Homo sapiens: one gene and its partners. The protein of the gene in region 3 purifies or fractionates together with the protein of the main gene of each other region. This does not show direct contact. Each region holds a gene or a part of one and is shown on either strand. Other genes may lie near its edges. The genes, in order: SPIN1, EIF2A, PAK4, KLHL42, ARHGEF11, SUB1 and HSD17B4.

Evidence for each region.
Region 1: the proteins of PAK4 (region 3) and SPIN1 purify together in Homo sapiens (co-immunoprecipitation; one large-scale study listed by IntAct). This does not show direct contact.
Region 2: the proteins of PAK4 (region 3) and EIF2A purify together in Homo sapiens (co-immunoprecipitation; one large-scale study listed by IntAct). This does not show direct contact.
Region 4: the proteins of PAK4 (region 3) and KLHL42 purify together in Homo sapiens (affinity purification with mass spectrometry; 2 studies listed by BioGRID and IntAct, with this or other methods). This does not show direct contact.
Region 5: the proteins of PAK4 (region 3) and ARHGEF11 purify together in Homo sapiens (affinity purification with mass spectrometry; 4 studies listed by BioGRID and IntAct, with this or other methods). This does not show direct contact.
Region 6: the proteins of PAK4 (region 3) and SUB1 purify together in Homo sapiens (co-immunoprecipitation; 2 studies listed by BioGRID and IntAct, with this or other methods). This does not show direct contact.
Region 7: the proteins of PAK4 (region 3) and HSD17B4 purify together in Homo sapiens (co-immunoprecipitation; one large-scale study listed by IntAct). This does not show direct contact.

What each region holds. Positions count from the first base shown.
Region 1 is NC_000009.12:88,464,445-88,468,848, forward strand, and holds part of SPIN1 (spindlin-1), read left to right. Parts: intron 1-3,927; coding exon 3,928-4,161; intron 4,162-4,404. UniProt on the Homo sapiens protein: Chromatin reader that specifically recognizes and binds histone H3 both trimethylated at 'Lys-4' and 'Lys-9' (H3K4me3K9me3) and is involved in piRNA-mediated retrotransposon silencing during spermatogenesis.
Region 2 is NC_000003.12:150,549,254-150,553,657, forward strand, and holds part of EIF2A (eukaryotic translation initiation factor 2A), read left to right. Parts: intron 1-3,102; coding exon 3,103-3,172; intron 3,173-4,404. UniProt on the Homo sapiens protein: Functions in the early steps of protein synthesis of a small number of specific mRNAs. Acts by directing the binding of methionyl-tRNAi to 40S ribosomal subunits.
Region 3 is NC_000019.10:39,132,007-39,136,410, forward strand, and holds part of PAK4 (serine/threonine-protein kinase PAK 4), read left to right. Parts: intron 1-2,180; exon of another isoform or gene 2,181-3,198; intron 3,199-4,404. UniProt on the Homo sapiens protein: Serine/threonine-protein kinase that plays a role in a variety of different signaling pathways including cytoskeleton regulation, cell adhesion turnover, cell migration, growth, proliferation or cell survival.
Region 4 is NC_000012.12:27,789,836-27,794,239, forward strand, and holds part of KLHL42 (kelch-like protein 42), read left to right. Parts: intron 1-1,872; coding exon 1,873-2,066; intron 2,067-4,404. UniProt on the Homo sapiens protein: Substrate-specific adapter of a BCR (BTB-CUL3-RBX1) E3 ubiquitin-protein ligase complex required for mitotic progression and cytokinesis. The BCR(KLHL42) E3 ubiquitin ligase complex mediates the ubiquitination and subsequent degradation of KATNA1.
Region 5 is NC_000001.11:156,934,340-156,937,742, forward strand, and holds the end of ARHGEF11 (rho guanine nucleotide exchange factor 11), read right to left. Parts: intron 3,158-3,403; coding exon 2,910-3,157; intron 2,667-2,909; coding exon 2,477-2,666; intron 1,906-2,476; exon of another isoform or gene 1,792-1,905; intron 1,720-1,791; coding exon 1,661-1,719; 3' UTR 501-1,660; downstream 1-500. UniProt on the Homo sapiens protein: May play a role in the regulation of RhoA GTPase by guanine nucleotide-binding alpha-12 (GNA12) and alpha-13 (GNA13). Acts as guanine nucleotide exchange factor (GEF) for RhoA GTPase and may act as GTPase-activating protein (GAP) for GNA12 and GNA13.
Region 6 is NC_000005.10:32,591,613-32,596,016, forward strand, and holds part of SUB1 (activated RNA polymerase II transcriptional coactivator p15), read left to right. Parts: coding exon 1-73; intron 74-4,404.
Region 7 is NC_000005.10:119,528,475-119,532,878, forward strand, and holds part of HSD17B4 (peroxisomal multifunctional enzyme type 2), read left to right. Parts: intron 1-1,419; coding exon 1,420-1,506; intron 1,507-2,791; coding exon 2,792-2,930; intron 2,931-4,404. UniProt on the Homo sapiens protein: Bifunctional enzyme acting on the peroxisomal fatty acid beta-oxidation pathway.

The DNA of each region.
Region 1 (4,404 bases), on a different chromosome or scaffold from region 3:
GTCAGTCAGCCAGAATGCATGTGATGTCACAGAGCAGTGGTTCCCAAAGCAAGGCCTGGGGACCCTTGGGTTCTCTGAAGCCCATTCAGGAGATTTGCAAGGTCAGAAATATTTTCATTTTGTTAAGCTGTAATTCGCGCTTTTCACTCTCTCTTTTTCTCAATTACACAGTGGAGTTTCCCACTATCTATTTGGAAGATTTGCATAACTTAGTGAACACAATATTTTCTTTATGAGCAGTGCATGGTACCACATCATGCATTGGTGAAAGAGCTATTCAAAGTGCAAGACTAACTACTTTTTTTTTAATTGTAAAAAAACATAGCATAAAATTTACTGTCCTAACCATTTTTAAGTGTACAGTTCAGTAGTGTGTTAAGTACATTCGCATTGTTGAAACAGATCTCCAGAACTACTTCATCTTACAAATCTGAAACTCTCTACCTATTAAACAAAACAACCTACCTTTCCTCCCATTCCCAGCCCCTGGCAACCACCATTCTACACTCTGTCTCTATGAATTTGACTATTCTAGATATCTCATAGAAGTGGAATCACACAGTATTTGTTTTGTGAGTAACTTATTTCACTTAGCATAATGTCCTCAAAGTTGGTTCATGTTGTAACGTGTGACAGGATTTCCTTTAAGGCTGAAAAGAACATTCCATTGTATCTATATACCACAGTTTGTTTATCTGTTCACCCATTAATGGACATTTGGATTGCTTCTACCTCTTGGTAGAATGTAAAATTGTACCATGTAAAATTGTGAATAGTGCTCCTGTAAACATGGATATGCAGATATTTCTTTGAGATCCTGCTTTCAGTTGTTTTGGATATAGGCACAGGAGTGGGATTGCTGGATCATATGGTAATTATAATTTTAATTTTAGTATCGTAATTCTAATTTCTTAGGTAGAACTACCATACTGTTTTCCACAGCAGTTGTACCATTTTCCAGTCCTACCTACAGTATACAAGGGTTCCAGTTCTCCATCCCTTAGTCAGCAGTTGCTATTTACTGTTTTTGTCATAGTGGTCATCCTGATGGGTGTGATACGATACCTCATTTTGTTTTGATTTGCATTTCTCTGATGATTAGTGATATTGAGCATCTTTTTATGTGCTTGTTGGCCACTTGTAAATCATCTTTGGGGAAATATCTACTCACATCCTTTGACCATTTTTTAATTAGGTTATTTTGATTTTTGTTGAGTTGTGAGAGTTCTTTATATGTTCTGGAGACATGAGTTTTAATGTAACAGTATGACAGATTTATTAATGGTTTCAGATTCTGCATTGTAACTAACCTTTAAGGAGCTAACTGTTGAATTCTGTGGTTTCATATAAGTATATCTAGAATTATCTGAAAGACGATTAGAATATTCTTTTCAGTATCATATCTTTGAGAGGCTGGATTTTATACCTGAACTGAAAGAGCAGATCATAACAGATTGAGTGCTAAAGCAGATATGAGAATCTACTTGTTCTTTTTAAAACCTAGACATTAGGAGATTTGCAAAAATGTAAAATTAAGCCACTCTTAATGTATTTTGATAGGAAATAGTTATTTTTAATTTAAAATGCATTGATATATAGGTATTTTTAAATAAATGTTTCTAGATTTGTTTTTCATTTTCTGAAGTAGTAAATATTGGTAGGCATTATCTATGTAAACAGATGCTTTTTTAGGTCTGTAGTAATTTCCATTTATGTTTTAATTTTTTTTTTAGAGACAGGATCTCGCTTTGTCACCCAGGCTGGAGTATAGTGGTGTGATCAGGGCTCACTGCTGTCTCAACACGTTGAGCTCAAACAGTCCTCCTGCCTCAGTCTCCTGAGTTGCTGGGACTACAGGCACTCACCACAGTACCCTGCTAATTTTTAACTTTTTGTAGAGATGAGATCTCATTATGTTGCCCAGGCTGGTCTCAAACTCCTGGCCTCAAGCAATCCTCCTGCCTGGGGCTCAAAGTGCTAGGATTATAGATGTGAGTCGCTGTGCCCAGCCAGTAATTTTTAAGAATGCACATGGAGTTCTGAGATCTAAGTCTGAGATCTACTGGCTTTAAGAAACTAGTGGGGTTTTTTTACTGTCATACACGGGGGGAATTCTGTGTAATTTTTTATTATTACTGCGTACTTAAAACCAGCCATACATGTTTAGGGTTTGCTGATAAAATTAAATAGCAATACATGTATCAAGAAAATCTCACTTTTTTGTTTCTTTTGATGTAACAGAAATAGAAGTTTGTTGAATGAGGAAAATAGGAGAGCTAATTGTTTGTTGTTGTTGTTTTTGTTGTTGTTAAGACAGGGCCTCACTCCCGTAGCCCAGGCTGGAGTGCAGTGGCGCCATCTTGTCTCACTGCAGCCTCGACCTCTGGGTTTAGGTGATTCACCACCTGAGCCTTCTCAGTAGCTGGGACTACAGGCCTGCACTGCCACACCTGGCTAATTTTTTGTATTTTTAGTAGAGACGGGGTTTTGTCATGTTGCCCAGGCTGGCCTCAAACTTCTGGGCTCAAGTGATTCGCCCGCCTTGGACTCCCAAAGTGCTAGGATTACAGGCGTGAGCCACCGTGCTTGTCTCTAATTGTTTGTTTGTTTGTTTGTTTGTTTTTTAAAGATAATTGTTTAAATTTGGTATAAAGACAGTTATCTAAAATTGTGGACTGGAGAAGTCTTAAAACCAATGGGATCCTTCATAGTTTTTCCAGTATTAAAAAGATGAAGGTGATAATTTTCACCACTTTTGAAAAATATTAAGGGCTAGGACCGTTAATCTATCATTTCAGAGACCTGAGCTCCCAACCACATGGGGTATCTGATTAAATCATACAAATACTGACCTGCTATGATCTAGGTATAAAACAAGAAAGGGAAGGTCTCTGCTTTCATGGGGATGTACAAGCAACTAACAAGTACACAAATAACATAAAGTGGGATAACTTTAGATCATGGTGAATGTTATTAAGAGGTAAAATTGGGTAATGTGACTGGGATTTGTGGGGCTACCTTGTTGGTCAGGAGAACTCCAAAAGGAACCGGCCTTCTGAAGGTATGGGGAAGAGCTTATCAGGCAGAGGAGAGTGTGTCCTAATGGGAGAGGAAGAAGAGCAGAGTAGAGAACGCATGAACAACAAGGAGGAAGATGGGAAACCTGAGGGCAGAGGCGTGAAGGCTTTTAGGGCTTGGGGGCTATGGTGAGCAGTTTGGTTGTTTTTCAAATTATAAAGGGAAGGCATGGGAACATTTTAGATCACACAATGTGGTATCAGTGACACAACGATTACTTTGGTTGCAGTGAAGAATAAGATTGTAGGAGCAAGAGAGTAAAAACCTATGCCTTAATAAAAAAATGGAAATAAGACTGAAGGAAAACAAACACCAATTTCTTTAAAAAAAAAAAACAAAAAAAAAACCCTCTGTGCCTTGAATAGCTTTTCTAAGTTTTAAATAAACGTTCTGTGGTTATGTAAGATGCTAATACAGGAGAAGCAAAGTGAACCGTATACAGGAACTCTACTATTTTTCCAGTTCTTCTGTAAGTCTGAAATTATCTCAAAATTTAACTGTTAAGTAAACAATAACAAACAGTATTTTATACCTTGAATGAACAATTAAAACTTTTGATTTGGGTACAGAACCAAGAGCAGATGAGTCCAGAAAAATAAAAAATCATATTTTTTTCAATTAACTGACTTGGGACAAAATACTTCTATTCTGTTGAATCCATCTCTGAGCTGGGGCCCAGTAGTTTGTCTTTGGTTTTTGTACTTTTTAAAGCTTTCCCAGATTCTGATGCTTGCTAATACGTTGCATGGACAAAATTTCAGGTGTAGCCTTCTTTAGTAAATTCAGTCTTCATAGTCGGTAATCAGCGAAACACTTTGTCAACTTTTTTTTTTTTTTTTTAATCCCCAGCGACATCTCGAATCAGCGATGCACACTTGGCAGACACAATGATTGGCAAAGCAGTGGAACATATGTTTGAGACAGAGGATGGTTCTAAAGATGAGTGGAGGGGAATGGTCTTAGCACGTGCACCTGTCATGAACACATGGTTTTACATTACCTATGAGAAAGACCCTGTCTTGTACATGTACCAACTCTTAGATGATTACAAAGAAGGCGACCTTCGCATTATGCCTGATTCCAGTAAGTATATATTGGCAACTTTTATATGTGATAATTAGAAGGGATTTGGACTTCAGTACAAGATATTTGATTGGCTCTTTTGCAGATACATTTTTATTTTTGGATATATGATTCTTTTAGTCATGCACAAACACAGCCTTTGAAATTTTTCATCCAGTTGTTATAAATGTTAGATAAGAAAATATTTGATAGTCAGTTCTGCTTGGCTTCTGTAATAAGATACAAGTTGTTTTATAATTATTA
Region 2 (4,404 bases), on a different chromosome or scaffold from region 3:
TGTTGCCCAGGCTGGAGTGCAATGGCGCGATCTTGGCTCGCTGCAACCTCCACCTCCCAAGTGCAAGCAATTCTTCTGCCTCAGCCTCCTGAGTAGCTGGGATTACAGGCGTGCACCACCACGCCCAGCTAATTTTGTATTTTTAGTAGAGTTGGGGTTTCACCAAGTTGGTCAGGTTGGTCTTGAACGCCTGTCCTCGGGTGAGCCACACGCCTCTGCCTCCCAAAGTGCTGGGATTACAGGTGTGAGCCACCATGCCTGGCCAGAAATCTGTTTTTCTTCATCTGTAGGTTCTTGCTTTCCTCCAGATTAAATTCATCTTTAAACTGACATTCAACCAAATGCCCAGCTCCAAAGGAAAGAACACATTTTTGCCAGTAGTCTCAGCAAAAATCTCAAGGCTAGCTGCCTTTGACTTTGCTTGGCTCACCTTTGTATCAGTCAACTTTTAATCATGTAGTCAGGACTAAATTATCTTCCCACTCCTCGATACTCCTCAAAAGAAAATGAGCGCCTCCTAAAGAAGAGGAGCTGGTTGCTAGGCACATAAAACAGCAATGTCCATTACGTGAAATTCACATTGTCTAATCTGCTTGACCAGTTGAAGTCACAGAGATAATTTATTCAAAATTGAGTGATTTTCCTAAACTAATACATAGTTCAGTGAATGTAAGAGTTGGGAAAAGTATCGTATTTTAAAGATGACTACACCCCTGCCATGGGATCCTTGTTTATTGAAGCCCTGTGTTTTTCTCTCTCTAACTCAGGCCTAGAGCAATAAATAGTATATGAATGTCTAAAAAGGCTAGTAAGCTTGGAAAAGATTATGTAGATGTTTAATGTATTTCACACAGCTACTGTGTGAAACTGGCGTTTATTTGTTGTCTTAAAAGAACTGCTTGCATTCTAGATTTTTCTTTCTGCTAGAACATATTGCCAATCCCATTTGATTGAAGAGGGAAATCACTAAAAACAGGGAATCACACAAACTCAGAATACACTATATTAAGCTAACTACGCATTGTATTTAGTTTCACAGATACTTGTAACTAAAAAGGATTCCTTGTTAGAAAGTTACATGTAGAAAAAAATTGTTTCAGTATTGAGAAGTTTTTTAGTCCCTATTTATTTTTGCTTTTATTAGTTTAAAACAGTTTATGTTCTGTTATGGACCTGATTTTGTGTTTTTTTCTAATAAACTTTGTATCACAGCTTATCAGGAGTAAATTAAACTGTATATGCTTTTATTAAATTTATTTAATAGAAAAACTAATTAAATCTAGCAAGGCATCTTAGAAGTACAAAATGTCAGTTTGGGCCAGGTGGCTTACAGCTGTAATCCCAGCACTTTGGAAGGCTGAGGGAAGCAGATTGGATTGCTTGAGCTGAGGAGTTTAAGACCAGCCTAGGCAATGTAGTGAAACCTCGTCTCTACAAGAAATATAAAACTTAACATGGCTTGGTGGTGGGTGACATGATCATGGTTCACTGTGGCCTTGACTTCCCAAGTCCAGGTGATCCTCCTGCCTCAGCCGTGCGAATAGCTGGGACTACAGGCATGTGCCACCGTGCCCAGCTAATTTTTGTAGAGACAGCATCTCCCTATGTTGCCCAGGCTGGTCTTGAATTCCTGGGCTCAAGCCATCTGCCTGCCTCGGCCTCCCAAAGTACTGGGATTACAGGTGTGAGCCACCACGCCTAGCCTGAGCCCTATTTTGTTTTCCAGCTTCATCATCCTCTAGCCACACAGGCCTTCTTTCCATCCCCTTGACGCTCTGTCGTTTTTCTTTCCATGGGGTTTTTGCACTTGTTAACTGTTCTCCTTGCTTGTTAACTGCCATTGATCCTTTACATCTCAGTATACAAAACACTTAAGGATGCTTTCCCTAACCTTCCATTTTTAGGTTAAAACTCTCTTTTATACCCTCAGTGGTACCATATACCTTTCCTTTGAAGGACTAAACACAGGTATATGATTCCGTATATTTGGCCAATTATTTGATTACTGTTTGCAAAGTTCAATGAGGTCAGAGACAAGGCTGATTTTCTTTCCTATTATTTCGCCAATGTTCAACACAGGGCCTAGGAGGTAGTTTGTTCGTTTTTTTCCCACTAAGCATTTGTTGACTAAATGAATCTATTTATTTGGTTCAGCTTTAGAAGCATTTAATTCAACCATTTAAAAAAGTATAGTCTAGGCTAGGTGCGGTGGCTCACACCTGTAATCTCAGCACTTTGTGAGGCTGAGGAGGGAGGATTGCCTTAGCCCAGGAGTTAGAGATCAGCCTGGGCAACAGTGAGACTCTGTCTCTACAAAAAAAAAAAATAGCCAAGCAGGGTGGCACATGCCTGTAGTCCCAGCTACTTGGGAAACTGAGCCAGGAGCATCACTTAAGTCCAGGAGTTTGAAGTTGCAGTGAGCCTTGATCATGCCACTGTACTCCAGCCTGGGTGACAGCAAGACCCTGTCTCAAAAAAATAAATAAATTTAAACATAGAAATAAGAAGTATAGTCTAGTTCTGTAGATGATTATTTAATCTTGAACTTTGTTTCCACTTAATTTTTTAGGCTATTACTGTCATTGGGGCCTTAATAAATGAATATGTCTCATTCCACTTGTTCTCTTAGTTTGATAAATTGTGAATATATTAATATTGCCTTATATTTCTAAAAACTTTAAACATATACTTTTTTTATTACTTTATATAAAGCATACAGCTATCCTGTGTTCTGATATTTCCATTTTACAGATTAGGTCACAGATTCAGAGGTGGTAACGTATCCAAGGTTCCACAGGCAGTTATAAACTTAGGTCAGGCTCTGAATTCATGTCCTCTTTACCACAAGACAGCTGCCTTTCTTTCAGTGGTGACAAAGTTTCGAGTTTTATTTAAAAAGTTACGTATTTCTCAGCAATTATATGATTTTATGTAACAGAGTAAGAAAATATGCCCTTTTGTTGCTAATATTCTATAGTTCAATGAAATATTTAATGATTTCATTAATATTTTGACTAAAGCTGCTTTTTTAAAAAACACATTTGTGTTAACTGAGTCTTTATTAACAAAGTAATTGTGGTTCTTTTTATTTTACTTCTTTAGTCCGAGGATCAGAAGGACTGTACATGGTGAATGGACCACCACATTTTACAGAAAGCACAGTGTTTCCAAGGTATGATTTATTTTGTTAAGTAATGTTATAGGGAACATACAGTACAATCTAAAATGGTTTTGTTGGTGGTGTATTTTGAACAAGAAAGGAAAAGAACAGATGAACTCATTTTTATTGTATAATATTTACCGAAGATGAAAAGAATACATATTCTCTATCAAGGAAAATGATCTTCAGATCTGAAAATAGTAACTTAAGCCTATTTATAAGGTAGGGGGAACAATACTAAGAAAAAGTGTAGACACTAGTGTAATTGAATACAAGCCTTTATTTTACAAGAGTTGTATCTTAAGGAATGAGAAAAACTTGCAAATTTGATAGCCAAATCATGGCCAGTAATCTTAGTGAAATCATAATGAAAAAGATATTAAAAAGGGAGGACATATATATGCACATAGTATATAGCTAGCTAGATTAATTTTTTTTTCCCCAAAGAAACAATGGACAAGTAAACCAAAAACTAGTTAAAAATGCTTATCTATAGGGGGAGAGAGTTACAGAATGCGGGGGAGAGAGTTACAGGATGCAGGGGACACATCTGTGAAAGAGCTTTGGTATAGTTTTGACTTTGGACCATATAATTGTTTTAAATTTAAAAATTAAATTAAAAGCTGGGCCCGGTGGCTCACGCCTGTAATCCCAGCACTATGGGAGGCCAAGGCAGGCCAGATCACCTGAGGTCAGGAGTTCAAGACCAGCCTGGCCAACATGGCAAAACCCCATCTCGGCTAAAAATACAAAAATTAGCCGGGTGTGGGGGCAGGCGCCTGTAATCCCAGCTACTCTACTCGGGAGGCTGATGCAGCAGAATCGCTTGAAACCCGGAGGTGGAGGTTGCAGTGAGCCAAAATCAGGGCATTGCACTCCAGCCTGGGCAAAAAGATGAGACTCCGTCTCAAAAAAAAAAAAAAAAAAAATTGGGAAACTAAAATAAGTGATTCTAGCTTTATATCAGGTTGGTGGCATAACCATGTGAAGACCTGCAAAATTCTTTTTTTTTGAGACTGAGTTTTGCCCTTGTTGCCCAGGCTAGAGTGCAGTGGTGCAATCTCGGCTTAATGCAACCTCTGCCCCCCAGGTTCAAGCGATTCTCCTGCCTCAGCCTCCCAAGTAGGTGGGATTACAGGTGCCTGCCACCATGCCTGGCTAATTTTTTTGTATTTGTAGTAGTGACAGAGTTTCACCGTGTTGGCCAGGCTAGTCTCAAACTCCTGACCTCAGGTGATCCACCT
Region 3 (4,404 bases):
GGTTTCCGTCCCTTGCACCCTGTCCCCCTCTGGGTTCTCATCCCGTAGTGAGCTGTAATAACCCCAGCCCCCCGCCCGGGGTCCCAGCTCCACGTGCCAGGCACGCGTGTGCTGTGAGTCTATGAGCATGGTCATGTGGCTGTACCCAGAGACCCTGAGGAGGAGGTGTTTTTAACCTCGTTTCTCTTTTCCCGTGTTTCAATTTTCAGAAAGCACGTTTTTCCTCCATGTGCATGCATTACCTATTCCCCTAAATAATCACTGAAAAACTGCACACAGCACAAAAGGATGTACAGGGACGAGCAAATCTCTTTCCCACCCGCCTGCCAGGCCCTTCCCAGAGATAGCATCATCACCCCCGGTTTCTTTTCTTTCTTTCTTGAAATATTTGTTCCCCCAAGTGCCCGCCCCTCCCTTTTGTTTTTACTCAAATGGAGCGGACTTCCCATGTTTATATTCTGTCCTGTGCTTTGCGTTTCCCACTCCGAAGCTCGCTGTCAGGACACAGAGTGCCGCCTCGTGTCCCACGCACACGCGTGCCCCCACGGACAGCACAGCCATTCTGTGCTGATGGCCATCAGGCCATTCCCATCTTTCCGTGCTGTGAACAGGGCTGCGCCCGCCTGAGTGTGGCTGTGCATATGTCTCTAGGTGTGAGTCTGAGCTTGTGGCCTCGTGGTCTGAGACAGGTGCCCCGTTAACTTTGCCGGTAGTGTTAGTGTTTCACCCTGCTGGGGAGGTTGTCTGGCTCACACTCCCACCCCCCAGTGTCTGATGACACCGGGGTTTCCTCACTCCCTTGCTGGAATAGACGGGTGTCACCTGACATTCTCACCTTTGCCAGTCAGATAGGTGACAAACAGTCTCATCATGGTTCTGATTTTAATCAGAGCAAAGTGGGACAGCTTTGTGTTGTTGAAAGCCATCTTGAGCTTCCTTTTCTTGGAGCTGTCTATTCCTGATAATTTTACTTTCTCTGAGAAGGGGAAACTGAGGCACAGGCCAGCAGTCCCACAGCAAATACGTGGCAGATGTGGCACTCAAACCTTGGCTCCGTTCTGGAGCTCCTAACCCATCTGACACAGAAGAGGTCAAGGGCTTGGCCTCCGGAGCCAGCTTTGTCTCTTACTAGCAGTGTGACCCCAGACAAGTCACATCACCTCTCTGTGCCCGGGTGTCCTCATCTGTAAAATGAGGGTGCTAATGATATCTACTCTTAGAGTTGTTTTGAGGATCTAAATGTATATTCGGCAGGCAAAATGTATAGTAAGTGCTCAAAGACTGTTAGCTGCGTTACTAATAGCCGTATTATTAATATTATAGCTATGTCACCAATAGCCATGTTATTAATATGAGCAGGCACTGTTTGAGTGCTTTCTGTGAACTAACCTACTGGACCCTCCCATCAACTCCAAGACACACGTGTTCTTAGGATCTCCCTTTTCTAGGGAGGAGACTGAGAGCCTGGGGGACCTGGCCCCGTCACAGAGCAAGAGGAACTGGGATTTGGATGCTGGAGGCCTGGCTGGTAATCGCTGTGGCCGCTTCCCCTGCTACCCGGGGCTAAGCCTGAGGGTTACAAAGCTCTCCCTCCTGCTTCCCCCACCCACCTTCTGCTGTCTGCATTCCAGGCAGGCTGCCCAGGAGCTTTCGAGCAGACACCTTGAGGGTTGGGAGCACCGGGTGGGCAGGGTCCTCACCTAGAGAGCTCCCCGTCCCAGACCCTCCCTGCTCCTGCCACCTGTCCTGGGAACTCCTGATAAAGCAGCATTGTGCAGCGGTTTTGAGTTCACTTCCCAGCCCGGTTTTGCCACTCCCACACTTCACTCCCAGAGGCGGAAGGCGGCCGGTCTTCCTGGGCTGCGTGGGGTGCCAGCCCCCCTCCCCTTCCCTTCCCTCCCTCACTGCGCCCACAGTCACCGGTCAGCACTGGCCATGGGGAGAAAGTAGGACCCTGCGGGCCACTGGCCCCTCCACAGACCCGTCCCCAGGTGAAGACCCCTCCCTGCCCTCCCCACAGGAGGCCCCTGTCCTTCTCTCCCGAGGAACCCTCCTTCCCTGCCGCCCACAGGGGCCTCCATAGTTCTGTCGTCCCTTCCCCGCAAATCTTCCACTGCAGCCTGGGCCCACGTTATTTGACTCTCAAATGCTATATATATACACAGCGCTTCTAACTCCACTGCTTTTAAAAAACCTTTAATAATTGTCAATTATAATATGCCCATAGAAAAGTGCATAAAATGCACAGGTAAGTTTAGCAAAGAATTACAAAGTGAACAACGCTTCCCCACCACCTCGGTAAAGACAGAACACAACCTCCCAAAAGCCGCCTGCCCATAACCCCTGTCCATCACGACCACAGTCGTGAGTGCTCTCCTGACCTTGGTGGTCACTGTGTCCTTGCTTTTCCTGATAGTTTTTACCATGAGGTATGCATCCTTGAATTACAGAATGTCATCTTGCCTGCTTTTGAACTTGACATAAATGGAATCTTCCAGTATGTCCTTGTCTGTGCTTTCTTTCGCCCTTAGGCCTGTGAGATCCATCTGTGTGCTGAGTGTATCTGTAGTCATTCATCTTTGTTGCTGTATAATATTCTTTTTTTTTCTTTGACACAGAGTCTCGCTCTGTCACCCAGGCTGGAGTGCAGTGGTGCAATCTTGGCTCACTGCAGCCTCTGCCTCCTGGGTTCAAGCGATTCACCTGCCTCAGCCTCCCGAGTAACTGGGATTACAGGCATACACCGCTATGCCTGGCTAATTTTTTTTTTTAATTTTTAGTAGAGAGGGGGTTTCACCACGTTGGCCAGGCGAGTCTTGAACTCTTGACCTCAGGTGATCCACCCACCTCAGCTTCCCAAAGTGCCGGCATTACAGGCGTGAGCCACTGTGCCCAGCCCCATATAATATTCTGTTCCTCCATCTCCTGCTGCGCTGATGCGAGCCATCTCTTTGTAGCATCTCCTGGGGTGCCGGTGCCTGCGTTTCTTCAGGGAATATACCCAGGAGTGCGTAGCCCAGGGCAGAGGGTGGGGTAGCTTCAGATTTAGTGGGCGCTGCCACACAGCCTCCCAAGGTGGTCAAATCTGTGTATCCTCCTAGCGGTGGTGACTGAGGATCTTAGTTGCTCCACCTCCTCACCAACATTTGGTACCGTCAGACTTTTTGGTTGACCTTGGAACATTTTTATTCTTTTTTCCTGCAAAAGTAACACCACTGGTTATCATCGGGCTGAGCCCCTCATGTTATTTTGTCCTCCCCTTGCTCCTGTCCATTCCGACTCTCACCCATTCTGTGGACAGGAGTCAAGTGCTTATTCTTTTTTTTTTTTTTTTTTTTTTTTTTTTTGAGATGGAGCCTTGCTCTGTCACCAGGGCTGGAGTGCAGCAGCGCGATCTCAGCTCACTGCAACCTCCGCTTCCCAGATCCAAGCCATTCTCCTCCCTCACCCCCTCAAGTAGCTGGGATTACAGGCATGTGCCACCACGCACGGCTAATTTTGTATTTTTAGTAGAGACAGGGTTTTACCATGTTGGCCAGGCAGGTCTCAAACTCCTGACTTCAAGGGATCCACCTGCCTCAGCCTCCCAAGGTGCTGGGATTACAGACGTGAGCCACTGCGCCCTGCCCAAGCGTGTATTCTTTGACCAGCTTTGCGCTGGGGCCCAGCGACTGAAGGGTGAACCCAAACAACAGGCAGCCCTCCCCGAGCTCAGTCCAGTGGGAACACAGACCTCGACTGCAGAGCAACAGAAAGATAAGCCGGGCTGGAGGCTCCCGGCCCCCATCTTCCCACAGTGACCCCATTTTGGGAACAGGAACCCCCATCCCTCGTCTTGTTTCGGGATTAGGCTTCTCCAAATCTGGCACCCTATCACCTTGACTCCTCTCTTGCCCCCCCGCCACATCCAAAGTGTCTGGAAAGCCTGTCACTCTACATGACAATGTAACCTGGTGCTGCGGGCTCCTCTTCCTTGTCACTCCCCTTCCTCGTCATCCCCCTTCTTCGTCACCCCCCTTCCTCGCCACCCCCTTCCTGGTCACACCTCTTCCTCGTCACCCTTCTTCCTTGTCACCCCTCTTCCTCGTCACCCCCCTTCCTCATCATCCCCCTTCCTCGTTACCCCCCTTCCTTGTTACCCTTCTTCCTCGTGGCCCCCTAGTTCAAGCCACCCTCATCTCCCTCCTGGACCATTGAGGCGTGCTCCCTGCTCCCTTCTCCCCCACTGTCCCCACAGTTGTCCGCACACAGCCAGAGGTAGCCGTGCACACCTGGTCAGGGCAGGAACCCTCCCCTGGCTCCACCTCTCCCAGCAGAGAAGCTTGCAAGGTCCCAGGCAACCTGGCCACTTTCCTGCCTGCCCTGCTTCCCTCTTCTCCTGCCACCATTCCTGGAACATTCCAG
Region 4 (4,404 bases), on a different chromosome or scaffold from region 3:
GGCTTTAAGGGACAAGACGAGGCTCTTGATGAAGAGTACTCTATTCACGCTCTGATTGGAAAAACAAACTAAAACACATTTAGATATAAACATGATAGGAACCTTTAAAAAATCTTAACTGTTTAGTAGGTGCCTATTACTAACCTAGTTTCCATAGTGTAATGCATCAGTTTTATTGAACACTTTTTAGGGGATCAAGCATGGGCTTCTTGTTTACTGCTTCTTCTTAATCTACTCCCTTATATAAGTTTTTTGTGTGTGCATAGCCTCTACCTCCATTCTTTCTTAGTATATTATTATTTTTGAAGACATCATTGTGTTGGGGTTGGATGTGGTCTTGAAATTCACTTGGTCTAGCACCTTTATTTCAAACACTAGAAAACAGAAATTTGAATGATAGTATTTTATCTCTGTGTAGTAGTTTCTGATAGACTATTTGATTTAATCATCTCTACCACCTTGTGATGGCTGTTACCCCATTTTACAGATGAGGAAGTGAGGTGGTTGGACCAGGGTCAGATAGCTGGTTATCAGCAGAGCTGGGACTAGAAGCGAGGTCTTCTGATTTGTGCTCAGGTTTTTTTCTGTTGCATCATGCTGCTGCTCATCCTCTTGTAAACTTGTGACTGTTGCACACCTCACAGCAGACTGACCCAACACTCCCAAGAGTTTATCCTTCCTGCCTTTTGTGTGCTATATCGAAACAAATTAATTTTGTGTTACTATTCAGTTCAAAAATCATAAGACTTATTTAGTGTCTGAAGCTGATAAGCAGCATTTAATTATTTTCTGAATATAGAGCTGGAAACCATTGTCCATCTCTTTTTCAAGTTATTATTTTTATGAAAGATGAGCATTTGTCAATAGAAGTATTTGTTGAATTAACATATGTAAAGACCCTAAGAATGCTGGATCAAAATATTTTGAGGCTGGTTGTGGTGTCTTATAACTATAACCCTAGCACTTTGGGAGGCTGAAGCAAGAGGATCACTTGAGGCCAGGAGTTCAAGATCATCTTGGACAACATAGTGAGATGCCATCTCCACAAAAAACTGTTTATAAAAAATTAGCTGAGTATAGCTGAATATGATGATACATACCTGTAGTCCAAGTTACTCGAGAGGCTGAGGCAGGAGACTCTCTTGAGCCCAGGAGTTCAAGGCTGCAGTAAGCTATGACTGTGCCACTGCAGTCTAGCCTGGGTGACAGAGCAAGACCCTGTTTCATAAATAAATTAGTAAATAAATAAATACAAACTGTGAATTTGTTCAGTGCTGACCTCTCCCCATCTTACATGTTGTGAAGCAGTATGTTAGATGCCCTTGGAGGCGGGAGGCAGGACCAGTGTCTTGCTCAGGTATACTCGTTGTGCAAGGATCTCCTGACCTACCCTTTAGCAGTCACTCCTCGCACCTGCCTGTCTCGACAGCACCAGTGTGTCCCTAAGATGAAGCCATACTACTCAGTAGGAAGAATGAAATACCCATTCTGAGAGGTGAAAGACAATGGGGTGATGTGGGTGCCTTCCCCTCTTACCCTTGTGCCTGCCCCTGAAAGAAAGTGTGGAGTTTAGTGTATACACATTGTCTTTGGTTGCTGGACTAAGGCTGAACAAGATTAATAACTTGTTGTATTGAACTGCTTATCTTCGATAGCTAGTGTTTGGACAGTGTGCCATTCCCGTGGAATCTTGGGGACAGGAGTGAGATTCGAGAAGCCATCCTTTCCTCCTCTGTCCTCAGGCGGAATGGCCCCCAACTGGGAGAGCGAATTTTCTTCAGATGTTCAGGAGAGTCTAGTAGTTCATGCCATTGTTACACTTTTCATTGATCAGAAGAACTAACTCTGTGGGCCTTTGTGTCTCTCTTTCAGGTCTAACTTCAAACTTGTGGCTGTTAATTCAAAACTCTATGCCATCGGAGGGCAGGCCGTTTCTAACGTTGAGTGTTACAACCCCGAGCAGGATGCGTGGAATTTTGTGGCGCCCTTACCCAATCCTCTGGCTGAGTTCTCTGCCTGTGAGTGTAAGGGAAAAATTTATGTCATTGGAGGATACACTACCAGAGGTAAGTGAAGGGACCAGGTAGGTGGTCTGCCCATGTGTAGGCGTCAGCAGTCTGGGAAGGGCAAGAGGGTGTCAGAGGAAGCCCCGACATATCCGAGTGTCATGTTATGCTTTAATAGTGTACACTTACACATCTGGAAGGAAGAGAGTTCCATATGGCAGGGATGATTGGGACAGGAGGGATCTTTTGATAACTTTGTGTGAGCATGAAAATCGAATGGGGAAGGGAGAGCTGTGAAAAAAAAATGTTATCTCTTTTTTTTTGCTTCTGGAAACCCAGCTTTTTGGTCAGCCGTCTTGTGATTTGGCTGGGCCTGGTTTGTGGGGGTCGCTCTCTGAGGTTGGGTAGCTCTTTGGAGAAGATTATCTGGGAACTCCCATCCTTATCCCAAACATACACCAAACCTGCCCCCATCCACCATTATGGAATTTAGTACCAGAGCATCCTTGCAGATTAGTTCTCATTTTCTCTCTTTGTGAGCACACACACATCAGGTAGAGGTTCCAGAAACCCAGCTTTAGGACACTGTTCACATATCACAGGAGGAGCAAGGACATGAATACAAGAGAGCTCTTTCCTGACCAGCAGTGGGAGGTGGTTGTACTATCTATTTATTTGTTTATTTATTTATTTATTTTTTGAGATGGAGTCTCCTTCTGTCACCCAGGCTGGAGTGCAGTGGCGTGATCTCGGCTCACTGCAATCTCTGCCTCCTGGGTTCAAGCAGTCCTCCTGCCTCAGCCCCCCAAGTAGCTGGGATTACAGGCTGCACCACCATGCCCCGCTAATTTTTGTATTTTTAGTAGAGATGGGGTTTCACCATGTTGGCCAGGCTGGTCTGTAACTCCTGACCTCAGGTGATCCACCTGCCTTAGCCTCCCAAGGTGCTGGGATTACAGGTGTGAGCCACCGTGCCCGGCCTGGTTCCACTATTTATTAAAATGTATATATGTGTTTTTCACTTTTTTGGTAGGCATTTTATTGTTAATAATTTGGAAATTAAAAAAATTTCTCCACAAGCTTATTTTTTGTGGAGACAAGGTCTCCCTGTGTTGCCTAGGCTGGTCTTGAATTCCTGGGCTAAGTGATTGTTCTGCCTTGGCCTCTCAAAGTGCTGGGATTACAGGCATAAGTCACCATGCCCTGCTTGCCAGCAAGTTTTATACTGCTCTTTTTGGTAGGGAATTGTCTCAGGTTACAGTGATAGAGAACAATGTAGTTGTTGGTGGGATACAGTGGCTCATGACTGTAATCCAGCACTTTGGGAGGCTGAGGCAGGAGGATTGCTTGAGGCTGAGAGTTGAGGACAGGCCTGGGCAACATAGCAAGACACCTTCTCTAAAAATGAAAAAAATTAGCTGGATGTGGTGTCATGTACCTGTAGTCCCAGTTGCTTGGGAGGCTGAGGCAGGAGGATCACTTGAGCCTGGGTGTTCAAGATAGGCCTGGTCAACACAGCAAGACCCCTTCTCTAAAAATGAAAATAAAAAAATTAGCTGGTTGTGGTGGCATGTACCTGTAGTCCCAGTTACTTGGGAGGCTGAGACAGGAGGATTGCTTGAGCCAGGGGTTTGAGGCTGCAGTGAGCTATGACTGCTCCCCTGCACCCCAGGCTGGGTGACAGAGTGAGACCCAGTCTCTAAAATAAAAAAAAAAAAAAGAAAAGAAAAAATAAAACTGTGGTTGTGGGAAGACAGACAATGGGGGACAGTCAAGCAGAGGGGTGCCTTTCCTTCCCTCTACTCTCCAAAGCAGATGTCTCCAAGTTACCTCTTAGCCAAGGAAATCTATTTCTGCATTTGGTCTGTGTGACTCTATGGAGCCCAGGACTTACAGAAAAGGTGTAACCTGGCTCTTAGGACTTTAAGCCACATTATGGTAGTAGACCTGCCGTTTTATTTGACATGGTGAAATAAACTACCACTCCTTTGTGGTACCATATGGGCAGGACAGAGCTCTTCAACCCTGGCTAACAAGCCTGAAGAAGACCCTGTGAGGCCGCAGCAGCCATGGGAACTTCCCAAAGGACAGAAATCCACATGCTAACGTAGCATCCAGATAGGTGACAGAAATTCCTTCCACCATATCCAAATGTGTCCTGTTTTGGGGATTTATGTTAGGAAGAAGTTAAAATGTAAAGTATTTGATGAACATCTGATTTATTTCTTTTTAGAATAAGTCGAAACATTAATTCAGTGGGGAAGATGGTGGGAGGTGTGTTAGTTTCCTGTGGCTGCCATAACAAATTAGTATACACTTGGTGGCCTAAAACAACAGAAACATATTTTCTTATAGTTCTGGCGACCAGAAGTCAGAAGTCAAGGTGTCAGCGGGGCTG
Region 5 (3,403 bases), on a different chromosome or scaffold from region 3:
TGGTTACAGTCTTGGTGATGTGGCTGCGTCTGTGGGAGGATGTGGATGGATGATGACAGTGATGAACTGGCCAGGCCTGAGGCAACCCTCCCACTTAGATTTGGCTTTTAAAGTCTTCAAGCTCATTGAGGGCAGCTCATGAGACCTCTTGACTCTGGGTCCACTGCTCCTTTATATACACATATATGTGTATATATATGTGTGTGTGTGTGTATATCTATATATGTGTGTATATATATGTATCTATATATATATCTGTGTGTGTGTAACTGAGTTCAGTGTCTTGTCATGTTTTCTCCATGGGGGTTGTACAACTTAAGTTTGCCCAGTCCCTAGTTCAGTGAGTGCACAGCTGAAGCTCTGGGAGGGAACAGGCAAGATCTGGGTCTGGGGGTGAGAGGGCTCCCTCTGGTTCCCACTATCCAATCCTAACCAGTCTTACAGGGAACAAACACCGTACCTTTTATCACAGCGATTCCAAGAAACACACACACCACCACTGAAGGATATTTAACTTTTCTTAAAAAAAAAATCTTAACCATGAAAGGAAGAAAATAAAAGAGTATACATTATCTTAACAGCAGAACAGTCATTTCCATATCTATATTTTATATATTATATATATATTTATATATATATATATGTATATATACACCTAGCACAGTGTGTATATTCTATTCATCAGGGAGAGTTGGGTGAGGACGTGGTGATGGGGCCAATGCTGCGGTGGCCCCTTGGATGGTCCTGGGTGAATTCAGGGACTCGGCATTCAGACCCCTGTCCCCACCTCCTGGGGCCCAGTCCTCAGCTCCGTACCTGCTTCACTGGTTTTCTACAGGGACAGGGTGGGGAAGAGGGGGACATAGGTGGGGTAAGAAACCCCCATGATCCCCATCTTGTGAAGATGAGAAGTCCAGGGAGGGAGGGAGTAGCTTGGCAGCAAGCTGTGGAGGGCAGGCTCTGGAGCCAGGTGGGATGGGGAGCCAGAAGACCTTCCCACTCACAGGGACAGGAACACTCAGGCCTGGCTCCCGCTTTAGGCTCGATCCTGGAACTGGGTTGTTAACTAAGGAGATACAAGTGAAACCCCTCTTCCCTAAGCAGCTCCTTCCATAACTGCCTCCAGCACTTCAGGAACAGGAACAAAAAAGGTCAAAGTTATTTACAATAGCAAAGATGCACATACGATACATACATATTTATAGGAAACCAAAGTGACAAAGAGGGGAGGGGAGGCACCCACCTCTGCCTGGGGTCTTATGGAGAAAGAGGGGAGGAAGAAAGTGCATTTACACAGAAGCCTCCTCCTTTCACTTGCATGTCTGAGGGCAGCGCACATACAGGCGTGCGCGTGTACACACATATGTGGGGTGAGGGCAGACCATGGTGAGTGGGGGCCTTTCGGATGCAGTCAGCATGCTTAGGAGACATGAGGCCTTGGAGGGTTGGGCTAAGGGAGGGAAAAGACACTGAAACCTGACTCCGACTTGAGCAGACCAAGCAACATGCGGGTCTCCCCCCGGGCCTTGGCTGGATCCTAGTTTCCCTAACTGCCTCCTCCACAGGGAGGAGTGTTGGGATCCCCCCTACCCTGTGCCCCGGTCTCAGGCCAGTCCCTGAAGGAGGAGTGGGGACGCAGAGGATTTGGTGGTTTGTACGGTTATGGTCCTGGTGACGCGGCTGCGTCTGCTGTGCTGTCTTCCAGGGGGGCGTCAGAGCCTGTGGGAGGAGGATGAAGGTGAGGAACTGGCCAGCCTGAGGTGACCGCTTCCACATGTTTTGTCTAGAAAGTTCAGGCTCACGAGAACAGATCCTTCATCACCTTCCTTCTCCTCCAGAAACCCCAGTTTCTCGTAGGGCTTGAAAAGGGCTGTCTACTGAACTCCACTTTCATCAGCGCCTAAAGCCCTTAGGTCAGGTAGGTATGTGCCTTGTCTTCCTGAGTTATGACATAGCTGTGTCCCTGGCCCACCCAGTGTGGTTCTGAATCATTTAATCAGCACGAGTCTTAGGCCGACACCATGGTGTGCACCTGCAATCCCAGCTGCTTTGGAGGCTGAGGTGGGTGGATCACTTCGGCCCAGGAGTTTGAGACCAGCCTGGGCAACATAGCCAGGCCAGCCCTTGTCTCAAATAAATAGAAAAAAAAAAAAAAAAAATATATATATATATATATATATATATATAAAATTAAAAAAAGAACAAGTCTTAGAGGTGAGAACAGGCTCCTCCTGGTTTGTTACCTCCATAGCACAAGGAAAAAGAGGGCTCAGTGCTAAGCTCCCCATTTTGCCAGGGAGCTTCTGTGGGACTTCCCTAAAAAGATCCCTCTCTGAAGCTGAGAGAATGAACTCGTTTCACTCAAGGGGAAACCACTCTCAGAACCACCATCTCTCACTGCTTAGTGATGTGTCCTCACGAGTTGGCAGACTTCTCCCCCAATGGTAGGAACCGAGAGGGACCTGGCTTCACTCACCATCCTCAGGGCAGGGCCCCAGTTCATGGCTGTTCCTGGAGTCAGAAGCTAGGGGCTCCTTAGCGGGAGGTGAGAGGGAGCCATCTGTCCATCTAGCTGCTTCTGTGTGGAAACTGCCCACAGGCGTGGTGCCACCAGATGACTCTCCCCCAAGGGACTTGAGCAGCTCTCTGTGGGCCAGCTCCATATCCTGGAAGAGTCGGCGGGGGAATGTCTGCTCGAGTCCTTCTATTCCTAAGGCCCCTGGGGAAGGGGTCTGTGCTGGGCCTTGGGGAGGAGGGTGTGATTTAAGGGTGGCTGGGCGGGCTGGGGGAAGATCCCTGGGCCAGGACAGGATCTAGGGCTCCCGCGAAGACACACATCTCACTCATGGGGAATGGTTTTGGGGTGATGGACTGAAGGCCTGCAGGGACCCAAGCCCTGCTTCCCTCACCTTGAGCCTGTTGAGCTTGAGAGTGAGCTGCTCAATGGTATGGAAGATCATGCCCACGTCCCTGAGGGCCAGGCTTGGAGGAGAGCGGCTGGGGCGTCTTGGATCATCGTTGCCTCCCTGCAGCTGAGGCTGAGGCTCTGTCTGCCCTGCAGGGAGGCTGTCAGGCTGAGGGGGGCTCATGGGTGCCTCTGAGTGGTCGGTGCTTGAGTCCGGGGGTCCTGATGGCATGCTGACATAAAAGCAGTTCCCTGTCCCCACAGTAAGAGAATGAGATCAGGAGGCAAACAGAGAAGTCGAAGCTATCCTCCCGTTCCTGTGGGATTCCCCAGCCACCTGACAGAGCAGGCCAGGCAGTCCTCTCCAGACAAACTCAGAGAACGTGGGCCTTGCTCACTGTCTGCCAGCCCCCTAAAAGCCCTGCTCCCGAGACCTTCTAGATGACACTTGCTCAGTCTGGCCCCAAGCTGGGGGAGATGCTGAGCGATGAACTCAAG
Region 6 (4,404 bases), on a different chromosome or scaffold from region 3:
GACAGGTGAGACTTCGAGAGCCCTGTCATCTTCTAAACAGAGCAGCAGCAGCAGAGATGATAACATGTTTCAGGTAAAGTTGGCTATTTTTTTTTTTTTTTTTTTTGACATGGAGTCATGCTCTGTCACCCAGGCTGGAGTGCAGTGGCGCCATCTCGGCTCACTGCAACCTCAGCCTCCTGAGTTCAAGCAGTTCTCTGCCTCAGCCTCCCGAGTAGCTAGGATTACAGGCATCCGCCACCAGACCTGGCTAATTTTTGTATTTTTAGTAGAGATGGGGTTTCACCATCTTGGCCAGGCTGGTCTTGAACTCCTGACCTTGTGATCCAACTGCCTCAGCCTCCAAAAGTGCTGGGTTTACAGGTGTGAGCCACCATGCCTTGCCAAAGTTGGCTGTTTCTTTAGATTCAGAGGAATTATTATCTGGCTTGATCTGAAGAATGTTAAAAGTACTATGATCTGATAATTGCCTAATATGTATGTTACAATCTTCTTAACTAGGGACATTTATTAAAATAGAACAAACTAGTAAAAGTATTTTGTACGATGCTGGATTATTGTTAAAGTCTCTAAAGTCTAGTTTTGCTGTATTTAAACCAATGCAAATTTAATTGAGAACTGCACATTTTGAAAGCAACTTGGAGGAGGCAGGTCAAGTGTTGGGACAGTAAAGTATGAATAGATTATTATGGGACAGGAAGCAGCAATGTGACATGCCTAATTTTGGCCTGATGAGCAACAGAAAAGGGGAATGGGTTGAATAGATAAAGTGAAGGAAGTTCATTAGAGGGACTTGATGAAATCACCTAGAGAGGACTCGTATAGCTTTTTCTCTTGGGTTTCCTGTCTTGTTTTAGGGAGACTTGACACTGGCATCTTTGTACAAGAAGGATTTGTGAGGAAGGGATGTTGGGGAATAAATGAATGCAGGTGAGATTGCTTAGGTAATTGTAGGCTTTAATCTGTATGTGAGGTGATAAGGGCTTAGATGGTTTTTCCTAAAGAAGAAATTATGCCAATTACAAGATACAGGTTAGGAAGAATGGACCAGAGGAATTAGGCAGTCAGTGAAGATGTGGACTTGATTGTGGATGTGATTGAAAAAAAAAATGGTGTTGCTTCTGTAGCACCTGAAGGGCTTAGTTGGGAAATGTTCATGTGGGATTATCAGCATGGTTGACTAAAGCTGCCTACTGAAGTATTAAACAGAGGAAGAACAGGAAGCAGATGAGGGGATGTCTTGGGTTATATTCAGATAGAGAATGGAAGGAAAAAGAGGATGTAGGTTAAGAGAGAGGGTGAAGGAAAATTAGAAGAGTGCAGTAATGGGAGCAAGAAAAGGATGAGTGTTTCCAGGAGCTATAAGTATTAGTTGAAACCAAAAAGTTGGGTGGAACGAGACTACAATTTTTTTTTTGAGACAGGGTCTCTGCTCTGTCACCCAGGCTGGAGTGCAGTGGTGTGATCTCTGCTCACTGCAACTTCCGCTTCCTGGGCTCAAATGATCCTCCTGCCTCAGCCTCCTGAGTAACTGGGACTACAGGCAATGCTCCATGACGCCTGGCAAATTTTCTTTGTTGTTGGTAGAAACAGTATTGCCCAGGCTGGTCTTGAACTCCTGAGCTCAAGTGATGCGCCCACCTTGGCTTCTGAAAGTGCTGGGATTACAGGCGTGAGCCACCGTGACTGGCCAAGACTGTAGACATTTATATGACTAGAAAGTAAGGCTAACACATGTATATTTTGACCTGTTGATAACTTTGAAAGGTGGAGTGCCAAGATTAAGGTGAGAATGGGAAAATTTAAGTTTTTTTTTTCCTATTGCTTATTTTTGCCTTGTTATACTTCTAGGTAAAAAAGATAGACAAAGTGCAGATGAACTATTTAGTTCAGAACACACATTTTAGAGATTCTGTTCTGTTAAGAGGAGTTTTGTGAAAACTAGATCTAATTTTAGGAATTTTCTCACCAGAAAAACGGAGCTTCATTTCTTAAACCCTCATCTGGAAAGATTCCTAAGCCTCCTAAGGCTGACATTGCACCTTTTGAAAGCCTGCCTCTAGGAGGAACATAGGTCATCTTTTCTTTTTTTTTTTTTTGAGACGGAGTCTCGCTCTGTCACCAGGCTGGAGTGCAGTAGCACGAATCTCGGCTCACTGCAACCTCCGCCTCCTGGGTTCAAGAGATTCTCCTGCCTCAGTCTCCTGAGTAGCTGGGACTACAGGCATGCGCCACCACCCCCAGCCAATTTTTGTATTTTTAGTAGAGACGGGATTTCACCTGGTTGGCCAGGATGGTCTCGATCTCTTGACCTCGCCATCTGCCTGCCTTGGCCTCCCAAAGTGCTGGGATTACAGGTGTGAGCCACGGCGCCCAGCCTAGGCCTTATTTTCAGAGTGGCTTTCATGGATCTAGTAGTGTAGGCATTATGAAATAATATGATACTTAATTTCATTGCCATTACAGCTTGATGTACATCAAACATCAATACATAAGCAGTTCTCTAAATGTATTAAAGAGTTGTACCAAAGAAAAATCAATAGACTTATCTTTTAAAGTCTGAAGTGATTGGGGCAGAATCGTGACTAGAGAGAAGATACTAGAGATGCTTACTTCCTGGTTCCTTCAGCTCTGATTTTGAAGAACTTTCTTCCATAGGGATGTAGTCTACCTGAGGTGACATCTGTGATAGTAAAGAGACTGGAGAATTATCTCATAATTATTTAGTACCTGTGTCTTGAAAGGTCAGAATAGTTGAGGCAGGAAACTTTAATCCATATTTTTCTTCAGAGTTAGGCACAAAGGGTCAGTAATACTGCTTTAGTTTATTTGATGATTTAAGGATACTTGATACTTTTAAATTATTTAATTTAAAATGATTATAACTGGTCATTTTAATCTGGGGCAGGAGTCCATAGAATTGTTTTTTAATTTGAGTTTTCTTTTTTGTGTTTGAAGGAATTATTCATAACCTTTATCACAGGGGTCCCTCCTGCACAGGAGGTGAGCGGTGTGTGAGTGAACATTGCAGCCCGAGCTCTGCCTCCTGTCAGATCAGCAGCGGCATTAGATTCTCATAGGAGCGCGAACCCTATTGTGAACTGCGCATGCAAGGGATCTAGGTTGTGCGTTCCTTATTCCTTATGAGAATCTAATGCCTGATGGTGGGATAATTTTTATCCTGAAACGATCACCTTTCCCCTTCCCTACCTGCTGTGGAAAAATTGTCTTCCGTGAGACTGGTCCCTGGTGCCAAAAAGGTTAGGAACCACTGCTTTATCAGATCTTCAGAGGGGACAGGGAATCAAATTCGTATAAGAATCACAGTTCTTTATGATGTATATGCTATTTTTTGCTGCTAATCTCCAGATTTTGTGGATATAAAATATATTGTCATCTGATTTTATTTTTTTCCAATAAAATGTGATTTCAGTGATCTTTATTTTTTCTATCTTTAAGTAATATATCCCTATACTACTATCTCATCACTTGTTTAATTTTTGCTAATAAGAATTTGTCAGTTTTACTCTTTTTTTCCCCCCAAGGGAGAGGCAGCTGTTGGGCAGATTCCTTTTTTTTTTAAAAAAAAAAATGTTTTTGAGGTATAGTTTATGTCCAATAAAACGCACACATTTAAAAGCATACCTTGATAGGCTGTGGTAAATGTACACGCCTTTGTGGCCAGACCATTTTCATCACCCCAGGAAGTTCCTCTTGGCTTTACAGTCATTGCTCATGTCCTAGGTAATCACTGATCTTATTTCTACCACTATAGATTTATGTTGTCTCTTCTAGAACTTTGTATAAATGGATACATGCAGTCTATTTTTTGTGTCTGGCTTTTGCTCAGTATAATGTGTTGAGATTAGTTCTTGTTGCATATATCAGTAATTTTATTGCTGAGTAGTATTTTGTATGATAATACTACAACTTGTAAATCCATTCACCTTGGGTGGACATTGGGATTGTATCAAGTCTTGGGCTATTAGGAATACAACTGCTGTGAATATTCTTGTACAAGTCATTTTGTGGACATTTTTTCCCTTTTGGGTAAATACCAGATACATTTGCTGAGTCGTAGGGTAAATGTGTAACTGTATAAGACACTGTCAAACCATTTTCCATAGTAGCTGTAGCATTTTACACAGCCATCGGTACTACTTAGGAGATTCCAGTTGCTCCACATCCTCGCTAGATATTGTCAGTCTTTTAAGTTTTTTTCTTTTTAGTTACATTGAATGTATAATGGTAGCTCATGGTGGTTTTACTTTCCATTTCCCTCATGTACATGTCTTAATTCATTGTACATCTTTAGTGTGTTTATTGGTTATTTTTATATCTTTTGTGAAGAGTATCTTTTGGCCACTTAAAATGCCAGGTCATTTGAGTTGTAACACTTTATAT
Region 7 (4,404 bases), on a different chromosome or scaffold from region 3:
GTCTCTTACTATTCCCCACTTTCCTACCCATAGATACACTCAAATTGGTGTTCTCTGAAAGCCTTTGCAGCTAATATCTGTGCCACATATTTTGGAGCCCTCACATTTTCTAATTTGTTTTGTATGAGTAAGTTTTGCTTTTTGATTAAGATTATGAACTCTAAAAGTGTTAAGGACCATGACTATATTACAGGTTTTTATTTTCCTGCAATTCTGGTGATGAATAGTATGTAAATAATTTCTATGGATACAAACTTGAAGGGCTGAGAAATGATTAAATGTCTAAATATAATGTATTCTTGCCATTTTGTTAAATTCTAAGCATGCTGTCTTATCTTTTCAGCATATTTGCTATATTTTTCTTCAGTGATTATAGATATTCTTTTTCTATTAGTTTTAGGACTCCTTCTCTCCCTGCCTCCTTTTCTCACTTTCTCCCTCCCTTCCTCCTTTCCTTTCTATTCTTAAGATATAAGAAACATTTTAAACCAGTGTTTTAAAATGATTTGCTTGATTTGGTAACAATAAAGTAATTTACTGAAGTGCATTTTGTTCATTAATTATCTCTTTCCATGCTTTTCAATGTATGTAATTTGAAGTAAAGTGAACAAATTACTTGAAAGATCTTTTTTCCTCCAAAATATGATGAGATGTAGTCAAGAGAATGATCTTCTTGATTGTTAAAAATCAAAGTTTTAATAAACGCTATGTTAAACTTTAGAAACTTATCCTATACATTTGTAGCAATAACAATTTTTATGAAAGAATAGCCATTGGAATAATTTGAAATGAAGGACTGGGAATTAGAATTTGAATTCCTTTAATGACTATTTTGATAAAAGCCTATTTAGACATTTAGTTCATGCTGTGTACACTTCCTCTTGAAATAAGACCTGGAATTACTACTTAAAAAACACTATTATGATTTGTTCCTAGCCAATTTTATTCTATATTAGCAGAACAAATGTACTTTGAGTACCATTACCTCATGTGGCTATTGTGCTATGCCTTTTACTATTTATAAGGATTCAGCATGGACTGAATTCTGTTTATAAGAGTGCATCCCCTGATCCCCACTTCCCCCCCAAAAAATGCCCAAAATACCAAGGCCCAGTCTCTATCAGTGTATTTACATTAGAATTTTGGGGGATGGGACCTCATAGGGTTTCTTTGTTTGTTTGTTTTAAAGGGCTCCAGCTGATTATAAAGCCAGGTTTAGTAACAGTTGTATTAAATCAGAAAGCCTTTATGTTTGTTCATCTTGACATTTACTTTAGCAGCCTTTTATTTTATCTGGATTATTATATTCTTTTTCATATGAGGCAAAAATAATAAATTTTAAACTTTGTACTGTTTCACAGTGAAATTACACTTCCATTGTAATCAGAATAAATCTTTTTTTTTTCTTCTCCTCCTAAGGTCCAAGAAACTGGAGACATTGTCATTTCAAATGCATATGTGGATCTTGCACCAACATCTGGTACTTCAGCTAAGACACCCTCTGAGGTAGGTTATAAAAATTAGTATCCAAGCCACTTCCTCATTTAGGAATTTCAGTTAAGGTGACTTTAAGAGTGGTTAGGCTACGTTAGAAAATTAACAACCATGAAACTATTCTTAATTCTTGAAGTGAAAAACATTAATTCAAAACAGCTTGGAATAGAAGGAATACTCTGGCAATTTATGAACTTTAAAAAACTCGTTTTGCAGGATACTAGGATATCTTTCAAGAGAACATAATTTTCTAGTTTTAGAATAAATAAATCAGTTGTTTAATCAGAATCTTAAGCAAACAGCGTTTTGGAGAAAAATAGATTAAAAAGTTGAATATCCTGTACCTTTTTCTTGATTTAAAGGTTTATATAAAGTTTTGTATGCAAATATATAAACCAGCAGCGTGTATAATTTATTAAAACATTGTATTATTTATTAGCATGCTGAGACTTTTGATAAAAATGTTTATATTCTATCTCTGAAATATTAACTTTGTAATGTTGAGGTTTCGATACCCATGATCTTTAATTGTCTGTCATAAACCATATAACTGACTGAAAATTAAAATCCCTTAAGAATAGTCTAAGAAAAAAAAAAACTTAGAGCGGGCTCGGTGCCTCACGCCTGTAATCCCAGCCCTTTGGGAGGCTGAAGTGGTTAGGTCACTTGAGGTCAGGAGTTCAAGACCAGCCTGGCCAACATGGTGAGACTCCATCTCTACTAAAAATACAAAAATTAGCCAGCCTTGGTGGCAGGCTCCTGTAATCCCAGCTACTCAAGAAGCTGAAGCAGGAGAATCACGGGAACCCGGGAGGTGGAGGTTGCAGTGAGCCAAGATTGCACTACTGCATTCTAGCCTGGGCGACAAGTCTGTCTCAAAAAAAAAAAAAAAAAACAAAAAACAAAAAAAACCCAAAACTTAAGTTTTAGAGCTGTAAAGAAATTCAGACTTCATGTAATTTAGTATTATTTTATAAATAAAAAAAATGAGACCATAGAAGTTGATTAATTTGATCAGGATCTTTCTAAAGTTAGCTAAAACATAGGTTGTCCAGTTCCTATTTTTCTTTTAAAATATTATTTCTGAATTCTAATAAAAGTAAAATCCTGTTATTAAGAGGACTGAGGTTCTGAGTGATGTATACAAATAAGAAAGTATGAAAGACACATTGTATGAAGAAAACTGACTTATGTACAGAGTTTTAAAAAATCTTTTTTTTGCACATGTTTTATAATCACTTTTCTCCATGAGTTATTTTTACAGAACTTTTAAAGTTTATTTTGTTGTCGTTGTTAGGGCGGGAAGCTTCAGAGTACCTTTGTATTTGAGGAAATAGGACGCCGCCTAAAGGATATTGGGCCTGAGGTGGTGAAGAAAGTAAATGCTGTATTTGAGTGGCATATAACCAAAGGCGGAAATATTGGGGCTAAGTGGAGTAAGTTATAGCCCTGATTTTATAATATTCTAAGGTAATTCTTAGTAAATAAAGTATCTTTTTAACAATTAAAGACCTTTGAAGGTAGGTAAATCTTACCTTTTTAGGTAAGTTTTTTTTCTTTTCCCGTGGGAATGAATAGGTTTGGGAATGTCCAAAGGGGGGTGTGTGTGTGTGTGTGTGTGTGTGTGTTTGTGTGTGTGTGTAAGAGATGTAGGGAATCAATTGAAATGAAAATAACCTGTTTTAAGATTTCATTGTAATCCTTGAAAGTAGTTTAAACAGTCATCTTGGCTATATGCATCTTTATCTAATCTTCAGCTTCTTAAACATAAGGCAAATTCATCAAGTCAAAATGAAGTATTTTTAAGTCATGATATTTGACAGTTACAAAATTATTTTATTCATACCAAAACAATAATTTGGATTATCTTAATTATCAATATAAAATCACTATTTTCTAGATATATACAGATTATGGTCAAAGGTGTTTGTTTATCTAATCTAGGGAAATTATCTATTAGAGTGCCATGCACCCAATATAAAACATCTTGCCGCAGAAAGAAAGCAGTCATATTTCTTTTCACTGATGTGGAGGTCCAAAGAGACCCTGGTACCATTTTGTGAAGAAAGAGAAATTAGAGGATAAAAAGAATAAAGAAAAAATATTCTGTCAGATCTTTTGCATCTGCTGTGTAACTCACATCCTTAATCATGGCACACACTTTAATTATGGAATATTCTAACCTCACCTTTATTTTCCTAGAGATTCTTCAATTAGGTTGAAAAGATGAAAATGGATAGGAGGTAGAGCAGTAAGTCCCTGAATTCCCTTTCAGCAGAGTCTGTTGCTTGTCACAGTTATCTTACTGTATTATGGTCATTTATAATTGTATGTTTTCTCTCATTTGACTTTGGGCTTAATCCTGAGAAATGGCTGCAGTTTGTCTATTTCTAGCTTCTAGTATAGTCAATAACACATAATAACTAGCCTGATTCTGTATATGTTGGAATGAGTGCTAAAAGCCATGTAGAAAGCATAGTTTTAGAAAATAGTATGGCTGCCTTTTAAAAAAAAGGTTCTGAAATTGATGCTTTACCTTCTATTAAAATAATGTTTATTGTATGGATAGTGATGTTTATTTTTTGTTTAGTATGAGTGAAATATGTAAGTATAATATGATACTGAGATATTTCATAAATAACTAACATATTTTATAGTATTTATTACTATTAATTTCTAAACCCAGCCAGAAGTTGTTGTAGTAAACCCTTTGAATCCTATTTTATTGTTCTAAGCAACGGTAAAAAATCGGAGGAAATGAAAGATGACATAAAGGCATAAGGGAGATAAAGAATCAGAGGATTTATGTGGCCTACAGAATAGTCTGCTCTTGAAAATTAAAACATAGGTACTCTTATCTGAAACTCCAGAAACCAAAAAGCTCTAAAAATAAACAGTTTTTTTTCTCAT